4 linked regions of the Homo sapiens genome follow. The protein of the gene in region 1 purifies or fractionates together with the protein of each later gene. This does not show direct contact. Each region holds a gene or a part of one and is shown in the gene's direction. Other genes may lie near its edges.

Region 1 (5,251 bases):
GACGTGTTCAAGATTAACAGTATTTCCAGGTTGGGCGTGGCAGCTCACTCTTGAAACCCCAGCACTTTGGGAGGGCGAGGTGGGCAGATCGCTTGAGTTTAGGAGTTCAAGACCAACCTGGGTAACTTGGTGAAACCTCATCTCTCTAAAAAATACAAAAGTTAGCCAGGTGTGGTGGCACACACTTGTAGTCCCAGCTACTCATGAATTCAATTCAATGTTTTAAAGCATATTGTATGTGGAGTGACAGCTAAGGGGTACAGGTTTCTTTTTGGAGTTTTAAAATAGTCTTTAATTGGATTGTGATGTACATTAAGTTGTACACTTTGGTAAATTTTATGGTGTGCAAATTATATCCTTATAAAGCTGTTAAAAATTATTGTAATGTTTATGAAATTGTGACCTACGTGATTTATTCCCAGTCAAAATAATCAAGTTCACTGCAAGGCAGTGGGGGAGTGGGTAAAGAGTGGATTATTCAATAAAAGGAGTTGAAAATATAAAGTTATATCCCTACCTCACACTTTTTATCAGAAACATTCTGATGGAACAAATTTTTAAATGTGAAAAAATGAAACAAAAAAATTGAAAGAAAAGCACAAGGATTCTTTTCAGGACCTTAAAGTGGTGAAGGCCTTCTAAACCCAATAAATTGAACCTCAAAAAATATTTTCATGGTAAAAATATTTTAAAATACATGAGGAAAGACAAAGGACAAACTGGGGGAAATTATTTGCTGCTCATGTCATAAGCCATTTGTAGATTAAGATAGATAGATGATAGATAGATAGATAGATAGATAGATAGATAGATAGATAGATAGATAGATAGATTCATTGCACCATTGCTTATAACAGCAAAAGAAAGAAAATAGTCCAAATACCCATCATAGGAAACTGGTTAAATATTACAAACACATCTATATGATGGATTTTTTTAGCCACTAAATAAAAAAGGACAAGACAGCTCTACACATATAGGTGTCAATACAGAAGCTATAAATACTCATATGGAAACTAAGTGAAAAGGCAACGTACAGAACATTGTATATGGGATGCCAACATGGGGAAGGAGGACACTCAAGAAACTCGCACAGGTGATCAGCTCTAGGGAGGGAACCTGGGTATCCAGAAGACTCAAAGGGAGGTGAAGAAATTGACTTATCGTTGCATACTCTTTTTTCTTTTGAATTTTATGAAATGTACATGTATTCCCTATATAAAAAATTAATTTTAAAATATTTTTAAACACCCTAGACTATGTCAAATTAAAACAACTCAAGTTTTGTATTTGTATTTCTCAAACACTGCAAAAAGGACACATAGGCTCCAGGGAGATTTCTTCAAACCCCACCTCCCTCTTTCTTGTGTAATATTCTCATATTTCATAATTTCTCACCAGTTTTTTTCCCCCACAAAGCTCAAACCTCCCCACAAAATTCTCCTCTTTCTCCAGCCATGTTTTTTGGGTTAAGCCCTGCTGTAAGTGGTTGGACACATCAATGACTTCAACAAAGATCCCTGCCCTCATGTAGCTTACATTCTATCAGGAAAAATATAGATATAAAATAAAGATAGGAATTAGCTACTGAGTTAGAAGTGAAAAGTACAATAAAGAATAGAAAAAATGTAGAGCAGATAAAAGGAAGGTCATGGGCAGAAGAAGGCAGATTGCAGTGTTAAGCACGGTGATAAGGGTTGAACTTAGTGACAAGATGCCATTTGAGCAACGATGTGAAGAGGGAGATGAAGAAGTAGCTATATAGACATCTTGGTGAAGAGGGATTTAGACAATGCGAAGAGACACGTGAGACCCTAAGGCAGGGCACACCTAGTGTCTTTGAGGAGCACCAAGGAATCCAGTGTGACTGGAGCTGACAATGTGAGGAGAATAGAAGATGAAGTCAGGGAAATAAGGAGGGCCTTGTAGACCATCGCACCATGTAACATGAAGCTTTGGGCCCTTAGGTGCAATGAAGAACCAAACAGCGTGATCCCACTGTGATTTTTCCATTATAATGCACACCCCGTGGTCTTCTTGCATCAACTGAATCCCAGTACTTGACTGACCAGTCACCATCGTGCCACTAGCATGCATCAGGCACCACAACACATTGTTCCTCAATTCTTTTTGTTTTTTGAGACAGGGTCTGGCTCTGTTGCTCAGGCTGGAGTGCAGCAACACAATCTCTGCTCACTGCAACTTCCACCTCCAGGGTTCAAGTGATTCTCCTGCCTCAGCCTCTCGAGTAGCTGGAATTACAGGTGCACGCCACCATGCAGGGCTACTTTTTGTATTTTTAGTAGAGATGGGTTTCACCATATTGGCCAGGCTAATCTTGAACTCTTGACTTCAAGTGATCCTCCAACCTTGGCCACCCAAAGTGCTGGGAATACAGGCGTGAGCCATCGTGCCCAGCCTGTTCCTCAATTCTGATAAGGATTTTTACGGAATAATCACTTTGAGTGCCTTTTTTAAAGTTTTAATTGGGAATGCTTGAAGCATTTAGACTCCTATACAGGCAGTAGTATTCTTCCGCACTTGTCATAAAAGCAATCTATTTATTCAATGAATAAATCTGTTTACATTGTTTTAATTTATTCCTTGAGTTCCTTTTTGCCTGGCTATTGGCAATACTGAATATCGTTTCTTCCAATCACATCTTTAAAATTTCTGCTTCCTTTGCCCACCATCAACTAGACCCTTACCACATTCTTCTTCACAGACTGTTCCTGTGACTATTGGCATAGTTAGGCTTTCACACCTGCATCACCATGTCTGAGAAGCCACTGTCCAAATCAACTTCTCTGCAGTTGCTTTCAGGTCCCTCCTGAAAGCAACTCTGGCCTCAGCCAATAGCCTTGCACCCCATGTCTAGTTAAAAGCCTCATTATGACTATCTTCTATGAACCTTTATTTTTTTGGTAGAGATGGGGTCTTGCTATGTTGCCCAGGCTCCTCTCAAATTCCTGGGCTCAAGTAATCCTTCCACCTCAGCCTCCCAATACACTGGGATTACAGACGTGAGCCACCACACCCAGCCTTTTTTTTCTGGGGAGGGGGGTGACTTTATTGCTGTCCTGCTCCATCACCACAGCAAAATGGGCCCTGCACGCTCCAGGCCTGCATCATGTATCACCACAGCAAAAACATGACCTACTTGAACACGTTCCCTCCCAGGATATGTATTAAAATTCTTTAAAGAAAACAGAATAGATTAATAACTTAAGTGATTAGGCACCAACAGCAATTTGAAAAATTAAATGTCCATTTTAAATGGTAACAAGACAAGAACTTAAGATTGGGTTTACTCTAGCCCATCTTCTCTTCCTGTCAAATAGCAACAATTCTGTGGGAAATGATTCTAAATTTCAACACACAAGTAGCAGACAAATAAGTGAGAACACATATCACCAGAAATCACAGGACAGCCTGAATCTCCAGGCGGCCTCCTCGGCAGGTAGCCCATCGTGATTCCAGGCCCCAAAGAGCTTGGCAAGTCCCAGAAAGGTGGCCCCCTGAGGAAGGGCTTTAAAGCTCCTGAGATCAGACTTGCTTCCCCCACATTTTAAAGATGAAGTCCCAGACAGGGCCACTTTCTCATTCCTTCTCAAAGCCTCCTCTAATCAGCCTTTCACAACGGAGAGAGAACTGCTAATTTAATCAATGCATCTTGTTCTTACTGTGGCAGGGGGTGTGAACAGAATGTTCTTTCCATATATTTTTTTTTCATCTGAAGCTCCTTTGGAAGGCCTGTATTGAATGCACTGGGCTTGTCAGAAAGTGCCTTAATTCCAGTTGAGCAATAGAATCAATAATTTTGGATTTGTGCTGTATGACAAGGGCATACAAAAATGTCTACCAGACAGGGCATGGCAAAAATGTTCTCCTTGCTTTTTTTTTTTCAACTAGTAACACCAAGATTTAGTCAAAGTTACAGAGCCTGAGTTCGGATAAGTTGCTTTGGTTTTTCACTAATAAGATTTCTAGGAATCAGCTTACTTCAAAATCACATGTGCACACTGTGTTTTTCTTAGTTTGTCATTCCTACGCTCTGGCAATTTTCTGGGTCTAATTCCAAGATGTTGCAATTTCCCCATGGGTACCACAAAAGTGGTGATGTGTGCCTGGTCAATTTTCTCACATGGCTGTCAAAAAACAAAAGAAATTTCATCTGATTGCTTTCCCCACATTTTGTGATGATTTCCTTTGGGAGAGTATACACCAGGTCAAGCACTATATAGATTTCTTGTTAAAGCATGGGTCCAACCATCCAAACACAACTCATTTGCATGACCCCAGAACCACCTGTATATGTTCTTCCCTTTAAAAAACTGCTAATACTAAGGACCATTTAGCCTAAAAAATCAGGTATCTCCAATCTATACCACTCTCCATCTCACCTTCAGCCTATATGCCAAAGTGCCATACTAATAAATGACTCATCATTCTGAGCTTCTAGGCTTTATGGGGGAGTCCTATTAGATCAGAATTGAAGAGACCTGCTGCCTGCTTCACTTGGGGCACAGGCACCATGCGTGGCTTAATTTCACACAGCTCTTTAATTGAGCCCCAGTGCTAACAGCTTAATGGGACACCACGACATTATATCCTGCAGATTTTAAATTAAAGTTTGAGACCTCCCCTCAGGACATGCACAGTACCCCAATTAACACTAATTGGCATTATACATGATTACCAAGTGAAAACCATGGTTTTCCTGAAAATGCCTCCTCTTTTCTCCAGCTTTAAATAGTCCATAAATTCTAAGAAAACAATCATGGGTGCATGCAAAGATTAGCTAGAATGATGTCTAGCATGATGTTCATATTGGGAGAACTTTGGAAGCAACCTAAATATCTATAATGGGGGTTCTGTACATAAAAGATAGTAGAGACAAAAGCAATTATTTTTTAATGTCACACATAATTTTGACATGAGAAGGTGTTCATGATACATTGTCAAGTGAAAGAAGTTAAGGAAGTGTAGAAATGGCATGGTATCACTTTCTCCATAGTATAGACAAAAGAGACTGGAAGGATATATATACTAAAATGTAAATCTCAAGGTGGTAAAAATAATGTTGATGTTTATCTTTTTCATTTCCAGGTCTAAATTTTTTTCTTTAAAAAATGCACTATGTTTGTAAAAAGAAAATGCCATTTTTAAATCCATCATTGATTTCTGAAGAATAAATGCAGTGATTTATTTTGAAATGTTTTTAACCAATTCTTCATCTGCACCAACTCCC
Region 2 (4,433 bases), about 110 Mb from region 1:
AAATAGGACTCCGCTCCATTCTCCGCCCCCTTCAAACAAGTAAAATCCTCCCTGGGTTCGGAGAAGTAGAGATAAAACATCCCTCCCAAGGGAGCGGTTGCAGGGGATTTGATGGGATTGAATTGTTTTATTATCTTGAAAGAAGTGATGGATGGATCCGAGAGGGAATATGTATATAAAGCAGAGTGTAGTGAGGGCGATCGGTATGATTATTCATTATTGTTTGTTAAGAGTGATAATAAGGCCGCAACCTTCGCTCAGACTGTGTTTATACTGGGGTTTGAGTTTATGTCAGTCTCTTATTACAGTGGTTTCAGAAAGTGAAAACACCAAAACCGTATTAATTCTTCAGTCATTCTGCATATGGGATTAATCAAATGTCAAAAAAGATACTGTCGTTTTACCACAGTTTTAATCTATGATCTTTTAGAAGGTTGCACTCTTATAAAATGTCATTTGCCTCCATCTGTCTTCTTAAAGTTTAAAAAACTTGGCAACATAATTAATTATGGTCCCAATTCCCATTTTCAATCTAAACCTATATTCAGGATTATATTAAAATACCCCATCATTTATTCCTCAGAAGTGACTCTTATGAGTTTAAACTCTTGGAGGGGAGAGAGGGACAACTGGGAATGAGGGGCCTAGGAGTTAGATAAATTAGTACTATTTCAGATTTCTCTAAAAATTCCTTTACTTCTTCCTTTAGAGAAAGAAATTACAAGGTCCTTCTCTGCACAGTTCATCACTTCAGTGAATGCCCTTAATCTTTACCACACACTTGAAACATAACAGCTTGCAGCCTTGTCTGCATTATTGCTTTCATTTTTGTGTCAGGACATTTTATTCATTAAACCTGTATGTCAAAGACTTAGGCTTAGTGTGGCAGTAACACTCTGTTTTAATTAGTAACTATCATAAAAAAGAAGCTAGAACTCTGTAATAGGCCTAAATTGCTATGAATTATGTTTGGTTTAAATTACGCATTTATTTCAGCAGAAATGAAACCATGAATATAAAACATCTTTTAATCACTTGCAGATACAGCTTTTATCTCTTAGGATGTAACAAAATATGTAATTGAAAAATATCCTTCTAAGGACAAGAGAAGCCCCCACCCTCAGCTTATTTGTCCTGGGTCTGTTTAACATTCATATGGTGAAGTATGAATGTTAAAGAGTAAAGACTATTGTCACAACATTGCCAATACCAGGTCGATGGAATGCTACCTTGGAAATAGCCACAGTAGGTCAGTCGTCAGCTTAATGTAGAGACTTTTCTAGTTGGCTGCGTGAACCTTGTTGTTTCAGATTTTAGTTTTCTCACTTGGATTTATCGACCAGACTCTGTTGTGGAAGGGAGAAAAATGTATTTTAAAACTCTAACAAATTATTTGACATGAAGGGGAGAAAAGTAGAAATAAAGTGTATCTCTTCTCTTCCTATATTTATTTCTATAGCAATTCTCTTCAGCCTATCTAGAGGTCAGAATTTTTACTTTAAAACTGAATGTGTTTTTGTTGTCGTCGTTAGGACTTATCATTTTGGTATGATGGATGAGCAGATATTGGAAATGGAATAATGATGACTGAATCAACCGAGAGCATAGGAACAGAGTGTGAATTACACATCATATGTGCTAATTAAGATTATTTTAATCTCCTTTCCTTAGTTTCTCCATGATAAGGTGGTCGATAGTGACCAAGTAGTGCTCTCTCTCTCTCTCTCTGTCTCACTTTTTTGCTACCTGCCTTCTTGTCAGGTCTTGCTTTGGGGACCTATACACCTATAGTAGCAGCTGAACCTTGCCAGTCAGTGGCCATCAGCTAATCACTTGGAAGAAAATATGTCTCATAGTCATCTGTATTGGGTCAAAGGCAGGGATACCCAATATAACCAACAAAATAGTTCAACTAATTCATTTGACCCTGAAATAATATCTAGAACCTCTAAATGTTTATTTTAGAATGATTATTCTAAAGAACACAATTTATTCTTCCCCTGTGGGCTCATAATCATTTAATAGAAGCCACAGCGTGGTTGATAGTAAATAGTAAACCCCACAAAATCTTTGCTTTGAAAGCTGATTTTAAAATCAAATCCTCCAGGATTTAAATACTCTATTTTAAAATACTTTGCATTTTATTCCCTGAAGTTAGGATAAATTCTGCTGTATTTTTCCACTGTATTACAAATGTAACATTACGTGACACTCAGCATGCATGCAGTCAAGCTTCCATGTTAATTTCCTCCTAGAAAAAAAAAGTAAATACTTTGCTGCTGTTGTTAAAAAATAATCATGTAGTATGAGACAGAAAAACAAGAATGCTAATACTTTATTGTATCACATGGTGGTATGTTGACCATAAACTCAGTTATATTTTTGTTGAAAATCACACCATTTCAGTGTAAGTCTGTTTGCTTGGCTGTGTGTATTTCACGTATTTCTTGCCTCTTCTGAGATGACACCTGGCATTTGCTGTACCAGTGCCTAAGCCAGTGCCAAAAGCAGGTGTATCCTTGGCTGCTTCCTTCCTAAACACACAACCCAAAGAAGCAATATCCACACCTTTCCCCTTCCTTCTGGTACTTTACTAAAAACTGCAAACCAACAAACACATGAATTTTAGTCTTTTGAAATATTTGGAAAACATGTAATATATAATGTTAATTCCCCCAATAAAAAAAGTTGTGGCTTGTTTTGATTTTAAAAATTAAGGGTAACAAATTTGATCAATGTGGTATAAAAGCAAACTAGCAAAATGGTCTGTAGATTTTTCACTTTGGGATAAAGAGACAAATTTGGCCACAGAACAGCTGGGTATTTGGCCCTATTACAATGCCAATTTTTTTCAAGGAACTCATTGAGTTAACTTTGATTTAAACTTCACTTTAAAGTCCACAAACCTCAAGTTTATGAGAAAAGTATAGAAACTTTCAAGATATATGTCATCATTCTTTCAATAACTTCCATATCCTTTGGAAACTGATTTATTTTAGTAAGTTAGTTAATAGGTCTTGGTTTTCGCTTGTTAATTTTTTCTGTAACAAATTTGAACATGACACATTTAATATTTTATATATTTCTCTGAAGTATTTATTTTTAGCTTCACTTATGAAAACTCTAAAATGAATCTTTTCTTTAAAAAAATGTGGCTAGAGGTAGTAGTATAAATGTATAATTTATCAAATGTCTCTTTTAATTCTTCTTTTAAAATAATTTGCCGTCTTTTTTATAGTTAAAAGAAAAACTTTTTTAGGAATAATGGTAAGGTTATATAAAGTTTGGAGAGTACTCAATAAAAATATGATTACGCGTGATTGGGAATCAACTCATTTGAGTGGAACTCTTAGACACTGCCTCCACAGCGTGGAGACTTTTAAATATAAAAACCAAATTATAAAAACAATTCACAACATGCATGCACGTTTGCTTTCTAATTGGAATGATTTCAGCTAATATCACAAATAGTGGTGACCAGCTGAAGTAAATGGAGACTGTACAAGTTTCTGTCAGTGTTTCTTCTCTCTAAGCGGAAATCAAGGTAAACACCCTCTTCTTCCAGCTGTGTGCTCTGAGAACATATATTCCACAATCTAAAAACATAGCCAAAAATATGGACTATATTCAAATATGTGTTTTATCAACAACTGAAAATCACCATATCTTGTCTTCTGAGGCAATGCTGTTATATACACAGATGTAGATAGAATATGAGCCTGAAATTTAACATTTTCTAAAATAAGCAGTAAAATCTGAACTCATAATTAGACCTCTAAAATATGACATCTTGTTTTTGAAATCACCATGACTGTTTTTAAAATTTATAATGTAGGAACTATGAACAAATTGGTATATACAAGACAGACAATGCCCTATCCTGGCAGTTGGCAAACAAACTGTTGGCAGACAGTTAGGGGTAGTGTTGTGGTACTTACTTGAAAATACTATATTTAAGAGAGAAAAACCAGTATAATAGGGCCTGATTGATTTATTTAGGATTACTTTGTCCAATTTAGCTGTTACAAGTGTATGGTGACTTCTGGAGTGTAGATGGTTATAATTTATATATTAGAAATATATACTGCTGGATCCTGTAATTGAAGAGAGATTTGTTGCCAACAGTGGGACAGATCAGAAACACCAGCGCTAGCTAAGACACGTAGTAAACTGGGGAAAAACATCAGTCGTTTAACTCTGTGCCTCCCTGAGTCTCTGATATTGTTAGTTCTTCGGGTGCTATGAAAATATGTTACTTTTTATGGAAAAAGAAAACTGCCTCTTAAATGAGAGATAAACATTTAACACTCTAATGATAGCAATAGCAGGATTCACCATACTAATAGAACTAACAGATGGGTTACATGAGAGATGGCCTTAGAGGTACCAGGGAAGCCACCCTGCTCCCAGGGCCTCTCAGGGTACCAAAACAC
Region 3 (4,433 bases), on another chromosome or scaffold:
ATAAAAAGTGATATTTTTACTTAAAGTGTTTTCTAAAATAATGTCCTTTGGCTTTGGCTTGATGATCACTTGAAAATGGTTTATGCAAACATCTGGACCTGGGTTTTCTGGCAACCTTGACATTTTCTCTGTTCAGAATCTAAAGACATGAGTGACTCATTCAGTTACTGAGAAATCTTAGGCAAAGCTAATTCCAGTATTGTAATATCTATCCTTAGTCCTCAATGAGAGGCTGAAGTTCTGCTTTAAGCGTAAAGCATTTGATGAAAGGTCAAAGTGGCTGCTGGAGGGGAAGGCTGTTGGTACTCAACTGGGAGGTGGAACATTTTGCATTTAAGATTGCCTTTCTCAGATTTTCTGTACTGGATTTTCACTGCAGAAAGAAGGTATTCTTTAAGTGCTTGGACGGCCACTGAATCCTCAAGCAGATAGACATTCTAAGACCCCTCTGTAAGCTTAACCGTTATGTGTGTGACATTAGCCTTCGTATCTTACAGGGTAAAACTTAAGTGGCGAGGGGACTGAGGCACTGAGGCACGGAGAGATTAATTAGCTTGCCCAAGATCACACAGCTGCAAGCTGAGATTTGAACAGGTAGCCTTTGTAGCCCAGGCTCCCAGCCACTGAGTTGTCTTGCCTCTTAGGAATCTGTTGCCTACTGTTTAGGCTGCCATTTGCTTATGGAAAGATCTGATGTAAAATATAGAGCAGTGATCCTCAACCTTTTTGGTACCAGGGACTGGTTTCCTGGAAGACAGTTTTTCCACAGACAGGGGTGGGGATGGGGGGAGTCGGGGGTTTCGGGGGATGGTTTGGGGATGAAGCTGTTCCACCTCAGATCATCAGGCGTTAGATTCTCATAAGGACCATGCAGCCTAGATCCCTGGCATGCGCAGTTCACAATAAGGTTCGTGCTCCTATGAGAATCTAATGCTGCTGCTGATCTGACAGGAGGTGGAGCTCAGGCGGTAATGCTTGCTGACCTGCTATGCCACTCACCTCCTGCTGTGTGGCCTGGTTCCTAACAGGTCCATGGCCCTGGGGTTGGTTGCCCCCTGTATAGAGCATGTTGCTCTCTGGTACCTTAGCTTATGACTAAAGGAACTTTTATTTTGAAGCCATAATGAATATGGTCCTTTTTCTGAAACATTTACTGCTAGAGATTTATACCCTTCCCAGAATGTCTTTGAGCTCATTTCAGAGCTAAACATTATAATGAAAACCATTGTGTAGTCCAGCATCCAGAACTTGAGTTGATTCTTTTTTTTTTCACTGCTTCTAACTTATTCTTAATAATACCAAACATAGCAAAAGGAGGTTGCAATACATTTGTTTGGCAAGTTTGGGTATTGAATTCTTGAGTTTTAGTAGAGCCAAGCAGGTCGGTCACTATGTGTCATTTTTTGGTATCTAGTAGAACGGTTTATTTAGATAGGTATTGGGTTCCTCTAAATTGCCCATTTAGTTGGTTTCAGTTGATACGGAACCTTCACTAGGCTTTAGGTCTATCTTGTAAACAAGATATTTTTAAAGACCATCCTAGATTGAGAGCAATCTATTTGTTGTTTTTTTGGAGAGCGGGGGTTTGTTCTTTTTCTCTTCTCTCACAACTCTGGTGTTTTCCACCATTTGGCTGGACTCTGGGGCAAGAGTGGGCTGGCCGAGGGTGCTCCAGTTTCTCTCACCCCGGAACAGCTGCCTGCCTCTAAGATATTCTTTGGAAGTCTATCCTGAAGCACTCCGAAGCCTTGCTTCTGCTTCTGGGAGGAATTCCTTGGAGGACTAGAGGCAACAGGGGGCCTAATCTGTTGAAACTTGTGTGTATATTTCAGGGTTAATAAATCTCAGCTAAGAAAATTAATAAAAATTCCACTGTGAATGAGAGGTTGGTCAGAGACTAATGTCTTGAAAATGCTTTATGATAACTTGGAAGAATTTGAGCAGATGGAAAGGAGAAACTTTGTTAAGGTCTCCCTGAAATTAGTCATCACTTCTTACAAGCAGATTTCACAAGGTGCTTACTATCTATGGTGTGTATAATAGGGTTGTCTTATTAATTAGTCTGATGTTTGGATCTGGAGAAGTAAATTAATGAGTCAGGTTTTGTATAACAAATGATCACTTTTTAAGTAATTAGTGTAGCATATGACCGTAGAGATTAATATTAACTCTTAAAATATGGAAATTGAGACTCCGATGGAAAATGTGAAAGTGAAGTTAAAACTTTATCTTTTTGCCTATGTAACATTTATCAAGTGAGAAAGTGAGAATGCCTTTAAATAAGCATTTGATTGAAAGCCATTAGAAGGTGAGAACTTGTATACCTTTTTTTTTTTTTCTTTGGGATAGGGTTTTGCTCTGTCATCCAGGCTGGAGTGCAGTGATGGAATCACAGCTTACTGCAGTGGCCTTGAATTCTTGGGCCCAAGCCATTCTCCCACCTCAGCCTTCTGAGTAGCTGGGACTACAGGTGTGTATGCCACTGTGCCCAGCCAGTTTTAAAATTTTTATTTTGTGGAGACGGGGTCTTACTATGTTGACCAACTGGTTTCAAATTCTTGGCCTTAAGCTATTCTCCTGCCTCAGCCTTCCAAAGTGCTGGGATTATAGGTGTGATTCACTGCTCCCAGTTGCCTTTTGTGTTTTTTTTTTTTAACTTACTGTAATACACATACAGAAATGTGCTTACATACTTTACATCAGTAGTACTTAAGAGTCCAGCATAGTAGATGTTATTAATGAAAGTTGACTCATGGCAATACATATAACTAGGACTTTGATTCCCCAGTTTTTTTCTTGCTTTCATAAATCTGTAAATCTTACTTAAGAATGACATATAAGGAAAATATGATCTCCTTCCCCTTCCTTGAGTGCAGTCTATTTATAAACAATAGCACTTGGTGCTGGGGTTTGTTCACGTTTGTATGAGGGAGATTGTCTTATTTTCTGGGATATAATGCGGAGATCTGTGCTTTTTGGGAAGTGATGGAACGTTGATAGTGCATCCAGCATTTAGGAATGCAAGAACAAACATTAGAGCCTTTTGAGGATGGTGTCCTCTAACTCCTCTTCAGTCCAACAGCCCTGTGGGTCTCTTCCTGATCAGCATTTTTCACTAAGACCCAAACTTATTTCCTGTAAACCAACTGGGCCAGATACTCATGACTGTCTGTGGTCTGAAGATAGTAGTTTATGTTTTGTTTTTTGTTTTTTTTAAATTGAATTGGGTGTGTTGTTCCCAGATGAACACTGTTATCAGGGCCTAAACAAATATTTTTGTCAGGGAGATGTCACAATTGTATTATTGGAAGGGGATTTTCTCTCTTAGCTTTTAATTTGCATTAAGAGGTGTCTGGGCTGTGGGCAAAATAGTGGCTAAAATGACCACTTTTATTTGTTTTTGAGTCAGCTATTGCTTTTTGTGATAACTGAAAACTTTAGTCTTTTTTGAAGGACTGAAGTGTTGAGAGTTTCCTGGAATGAGTGGTTCACTAGCTGTTGCTGATCACCTGGTTTATTCTTAGCTTTTTTTGCATTCAGGAGTCTTAGTTTTCCCTTGTTCTCCAACTTCTGTAATCTTTAAGAAAATGAAAGGATATTTAGCAGCTCTGATGACCTGTATTTGCTGGATTGTAAAGGCCTTATTGCATTTTTTATCCCTTCTGTCTTGGTAAAAGTTCCTGATAGCAGCAGCTTTTATAAAAGTTTGAGCAGAACTAAGGCAAGGAGGAAGAACTCTAAAATAGTGATTTTTGCTTCTCAGTTGTTATTAGTAGGTTAATCAGGAGAGGAAGTAGGACATTTTAACTAAAATGGGTTTCTGTTTCAGTTATCAAGCCAAGCTGCTATTTTTAAGTTTGAAACCATTTTTAAATTCAGACAGGTTTGAGGATTAATTGTACTGAAATGGAGCTCACATCTAGTGCTTTAGTGAGTATAGCTAAATGTGCCTATAATAGGGAGGAAGTAAATCATTTGGTTTGATGAACTCTGTCACTTGAGGTCATATCATAGCTTTTCTGAAAGAGTGCCCTGTTTAAGGTAATTATATTTTATGCAGACAGGTGGATAGTAGGTATCTAGTATATATCTTTTTTTTTTTTGAGACGGAGTCTCACTATGTTGGCAGACTGGAGTGCAGTGGTGCAATCTCAGCTCACTGCAATCTCCACCTCCCGGGTTCAAGCGATTCTCCTGCCTCAGCCTCCCGAGTAGCTGGGATTACAGGCACAAGCCACCATGCCCAGCTAATTTTTGTATTTTTAGTAGAGACGGGGTTTCACCATGTTGGCCAGGATGGTCTCGATCTCCTGATCTCGTGATCTGCCCGCCTTGACCTCCCAACATGTTGGGATTACAGGCGTGAGCCTCTGCGCCTGGTTGGTATCTCTTAAATATCTTAATGTTAAATTTCTAAATCTAACATACTGTTT
Region 4 (4,221 bases), on another chromosome or scaffold:
TTTAGATTTCATTTGTGGTGTATCAGGAAGCCAATGGAGGGTTTTAACCTGGGCACCGACATTTGCTAGGTGGAGAATGGGACTTTATGGGAGAAAACAGCGAAGATGGCCCAGTTATCCAGGGAGAAATGGTGGTGGCTTGGACTAGAGGTGGGAGCAGTAAAGATGATGGATTTCAGATTCAGGTGGTGAAGCCCCCAGACAACATGGTGATGGGAGGTGCGGGATTAGGAGTCCCAGGTAAATCCTGAGTTTTGTTTGGGACAGGACAAAATCTGCAGTTTTAAGTTTAGAATGCCAACCAGATAGATATTTTAAGATGAAAAAAGCTAAACAGGCATGGTTGCTCATGCCTATGATTCCAGGGCTTTGGAAGGCTGAGGTGGGAGGAGACTTGAGCCCAGGAGTTCAAGGTTACAGTGAGCTATGATAGCACCACTGCACTCCAGCCTGGGAGACAGAGCTGTCGCCCCATCTCTAAAAATAAAAAAAATATATTAAAAAAAGAAAACAAAGCTAAAAGAAAAATGAAGTTCACTTACTAGTGAGAGAGAGTGGCCTAAAAAAAACCTTTGGTATTTAAGGTCCCTTGGGGAAGGGACTGTGTCTAGGAGGATGCCTAGAGTTCATGTCAGGAAAATGGCTACACAGCTTAGGAGGAATTCAGACGCTACCGTCGGCTCTAGTTATGAAGAGGGAAGAGCTAATGTGTTTACACAAGATGTTGCACTAATACTTCTGGTCAGGAGCCTGATATGATCAGAATTTTCACTAGTAGCTTCCTAATCTCTGCCACTCAAGTGCTGCTACTCTTGTGATCAAAGTGCAATGACATATTAGTCACTGTGTGCCAGGCTCTGTGCTGAGCATTTTACATGTGTTAGCTGATAAGCTTTGAGGTGAATCTTATCCTCATTTTATGGAGGAGTAAGGTGAACAAGGTGGGCTGACCCCGGAGCCCACGCACTTGATCCTGCCACATCCTCGGGAAAACTTCCCCAGAGCCCAAAGGGGAACTCCCTCCTGCACTTGGTCAGGGCTCTTGGCTTTCTGTCCTCTGGAGCACAGATGTTCATGCCTGCATCTACCTCCCTCACCATAACTAAGGTCAGCGCTGAATGAAGCCATCAGGGTCCTGAAACTGATCATGGTGACACTGGATTTTAGGCAATCTACAAGGCTATCTAGGAGACTTAGGGCAGGTTCCCCTCATAATTCAGTCTACCCCTCATAATTCAGTCTACTCTGAGTAGGGAACACTATCAGCATCATGGGATTGTGACAAAAAAGCATAAGATGGTTTTCTGGTGTGTTGGGGTTGTTTTGCCTAAACTATCTGCTCCTGTTTTGTTTTTCATTTCTCCTTCATTTAGGACTTAAAGATGGAGGAAGCTATGAGCAATACAGGTATTTCGTTTTATTATTAAAGCCTAAACAAAGTTCTCCTATCTTGGCCCATCCTTCAGTCTCATCTCTGTGAGTCTGCACCTGTTATCTTGAGAAACTGCCCTTCCCTCTGGTCTGCCCGAGACCAGGATCACCCACCAAAGATAGGTGTCACCTAGGAGACCTTCTTTGTATAGTTCTTTGGGGACTTTTTCTTTCTTGGTGATGGTTAACATTCATTCTCCTTTGACACTTGAAAACTTAGGCAGTTTCAGCGTCGAAAGTGGCCAGAAATGAAGAGACCTTCTTCCAAATCACTGTGAGTTGAGGAACCAGCTTACAAATAGAAATCTGGTTCTGACCGCTTCATTTTGCCAATGCTATTCTATTTGCATGCCATTTCTTACATACCACCCTTTGTTTGTTCTCATGATGAGGGTGGGGGGGAAGTACTAATGCACATCTTTCCCTAAGAAAACACTTGAATCCATTTCATGTTTTAGATTAATGCCTTGTCCAGTACACTGCTGTTCTCGCTATAATCTGTGCTTGGTAAACTTGAGCTATTACTTAGAGGTTGAGAAGCATTTAAATATTACAAATTGCTAGGCATCTTGAAGGCTGTGGCTACAAAAGTGCTAACTGATATACAACATCAGTAGTAGGATGGCCTCATTAAATGGTTTCCAAAAAGCCCATGCTACAAACTCTCACTCCAGTGCCATTGGAGGCTGACAGGGACTAAGAGACTGGCAACCTGTAAAGTTCACCTCTATTCTAAAGGGAGCAGGCCAGTTTGCTCCCTGCAGGAATGGGCTGAGGTTCGCCAGATTTTCTCATTCGTCTACCAAATCCAAAAATGCAAGTATGTGTGAGAATTCTTTATCATTATCATCTAATTTGACATTAAGTTAACCATGTGGGCAAATTATCGCCCTTGGTGAACTGCCACTTGCAACCTCTGGTCTACTCATTTCTTCCTTTATATGCATATAAACCTGTGTGGCTTTAATAGGACATTAGTAACAGGTCACCTAAGCCTTTCTTCGGTGCTTCTAGAATTAAGGTACAGAATCTTTACATATCACAATCTCCTTAGCCACTATTCTGTCCAGATCCTTAAATGCCATCCTTGCCAGGCATTGGGTGTATAAGTAAACAAAAAATTGAGGTGACTAGGTGGTGGCAATCCCGTTCTAAGTAACCTAGAAATATTCATTCTCAGCAGCCTTGAAGCAAAGCTTCCTCAGCTATAGGACCGATTAGGAAGTCATGATAAAGACCATGATAGCTAAGTGCTAAGATGAGTTTGTTTTGTTCTTTAGGGGACAACTGTGGGAAGGCTGGGAAGGTTAAGAAACAACAGAGGTGGACCTCCAAAAACATAGAGGCATCACCTGACTGCACAGGCAATGAAAAACCATGTGGGTGATTTCCAGCAGACCTGTGGTATTGGCCAGGAGGCCTGAGAAAGCAAGCACGCACTCTCAGTCAACATGACAGATTCTGGAGGATAACCAGCAGGAGCAGAGATAACTTCAGGAAGTCCATTTTTGCCCCTGCTTTTGCTTTGGATTATACCTCACCAGCTGCACAAAATGCATTTTTTCGTATCAAAAAGTCACCACTAACCCTCCCCCAGAAGCTCACAAAGGAAAACGGAGAGAGCGAGCGAGAGAGATTTCCTTGGAAATTTCTCCCAAGGGCGAAAGTCATTGGAATTTTTAAATCATAGGGGAAAAGCAGTCCTGTTCTAAATCCTCTTATTCTTTTGGTTTGTCACAAAGAAGGAACTAAGAAGCAGGACAGAGGCAACGTGGAGAGGCTGAAAACAGTGCAGAGACGTTTGACAATGAGTCAGTAGCACAAAAGAGATGACATTTACCTAGCACTATAAACCCTGGTTGCCTCTGAAGAAACTGCCTTCATTGTATATATGTGACTATTTACATGTAATCAACATGGGAACTTTTAGGGGAACCTAATAAGAAATCCCAATTTTCAGGAGTGGTGGTGTCAATAAACGCTCTGTGGCCAGTGTAAAAGAAAATCCCTCGCAGTTGTGGACATTTCTGTTCCTGTCCAGATACCATTTCTCCTAGTATTTCTTTGTTATGTCCCAGAACTGATGTTTTTTTTTTAAGGTACTGAAAAGAAATGAAGTTGATGTATGTCCCAAGTTTTGATGAAACTGTATTTGTAAAAAAAATTTTGTAGTTTAAGTATTGTCATACAGTGTTCAAAACCCCAGCCAATGACCAGCAGTTGGTATGAAGAACCTTTGACATTTTGTAAAAGGCCATTTCTTGGGAGTTTTTTGGTGTGTCTGTTTTTTTAAAGTATTCAAGATACTACCAGTCAACATCTTTTTGGAAGAAAATGCCTTGGGTTTAGAAGATTTTCTTAAAAGGGGAGTAGATGGTTGTAGATTGACTAAAAAGTCTACCATACTTCAAGGGACTACAGGTAAGTCTCATAGTATACCAGCTTTGGTACTTCATTTTTTAAAAAAGTATTAATCAATTGCAAAGAAATTCGCCTTGGCCAACCCTTCTTTGTGTATCAGGTAGTCTAACCTGATACAAGTAGTTGACAGATTTCAACTATCAATCACCAGTCCAACCCATTTCTCATTTAACAGATGACGGAGATAATCCCTAAAAGCACCCACATTTGTTTCAATGCCCCAAACAGGCCAAGGCTCCCTAGCAACTCCCTAGTGGCGTTTTTTAACTTCTCAGAAACTGTTACCATTATTTGAAATAGGCTTCCTTAACCTCCTTTACCCTTAACCCAACAGGGATTTAAAAAAAAAAAAAAAAAAAAAAAACTCTT

What was found. The genes of interacting proteins can lie anywhere in the genome.
Region 2: the proteins of C1QTNF7 (region 1) and NDNF purify together in Homo sapiens (affinity purification with mass spectrometry; one large-scale study listed by BioGRID and IntAct). This does not show direct contact.
Region 3: the proteins of C1QTNF7 (region 1) and MAN2A1 purify together in Homo sapiens (affinity purification with mass spectrometry; one large-scale study listed by BioGRID and IntAct). This does not show direct contact.
Region 4: the proteins of C1QTNF7 (region 1) and SULF2 purify together in Homo sapiens (affinity purification with mass spectrometry; one large-scale study listed by BioGRID and IntAct). This does not show direct contact.

The regions. Positions count from the first base shown.
Region 1 is NC_000004.12:15,430,275-15,435,525, forward strand, and holds part of C1QTNF7 (complement C1q tumor necrosis factor-related protein 7 isoform b precursor), read left to right. Parts: intron 1-5,251.
Region 2 is NC_000004.12:121,066,013-121,070,445, reverse strand, and holds part of NDNF (protein NDNF precursor), read left to right. Parts: intron 1-4,433. UniProt on the Homo sapiens protein: Secretory protein that plays a role in various cellular processes. Acts as a chemorepellent acting on gonadotropin-releasing hormone (GnRH) expressing neurons regulating their migration to the hypothalamus.
Region 3 is NC_000005.10:109,692,017-109,696,449, forward strand, and holds part of MAN2A1 (alpha-mannosidase 2), read left to right. Parts: intron 1-4,433. UniProt on the Homo sapiens protein: Catalyzes the first committed step in the biosynthesis of complex N-glycans. It controls conversion of high mannose to complex N-glycans; the final hydrolytic step in the N-glycan maturation pathway.
Region 4 is NC_000020.11:47,656,883-47,661,103, reverse strand, and holds the end of SULF2 (extracellular sulfatase Sulf-2 isoform a precursor), read left to right. Parts: intron 1-1,373; coding exon 1,374-1,407; intron 1,408-1,651; coding exon 1,652-1,705; intron 1,706-2,711; coding exon 2,712-2,742; 3' UTR 2,743-3,698; downstream 3,699-4,221. UniProt on the Homo sapiens protein: Exhibits arylsulfatase activity and highly specific endoglucosamine-6-sulfatase activity. It can remove sulfate from the C-6 position of glucosamine within specific subregions of intact heparin.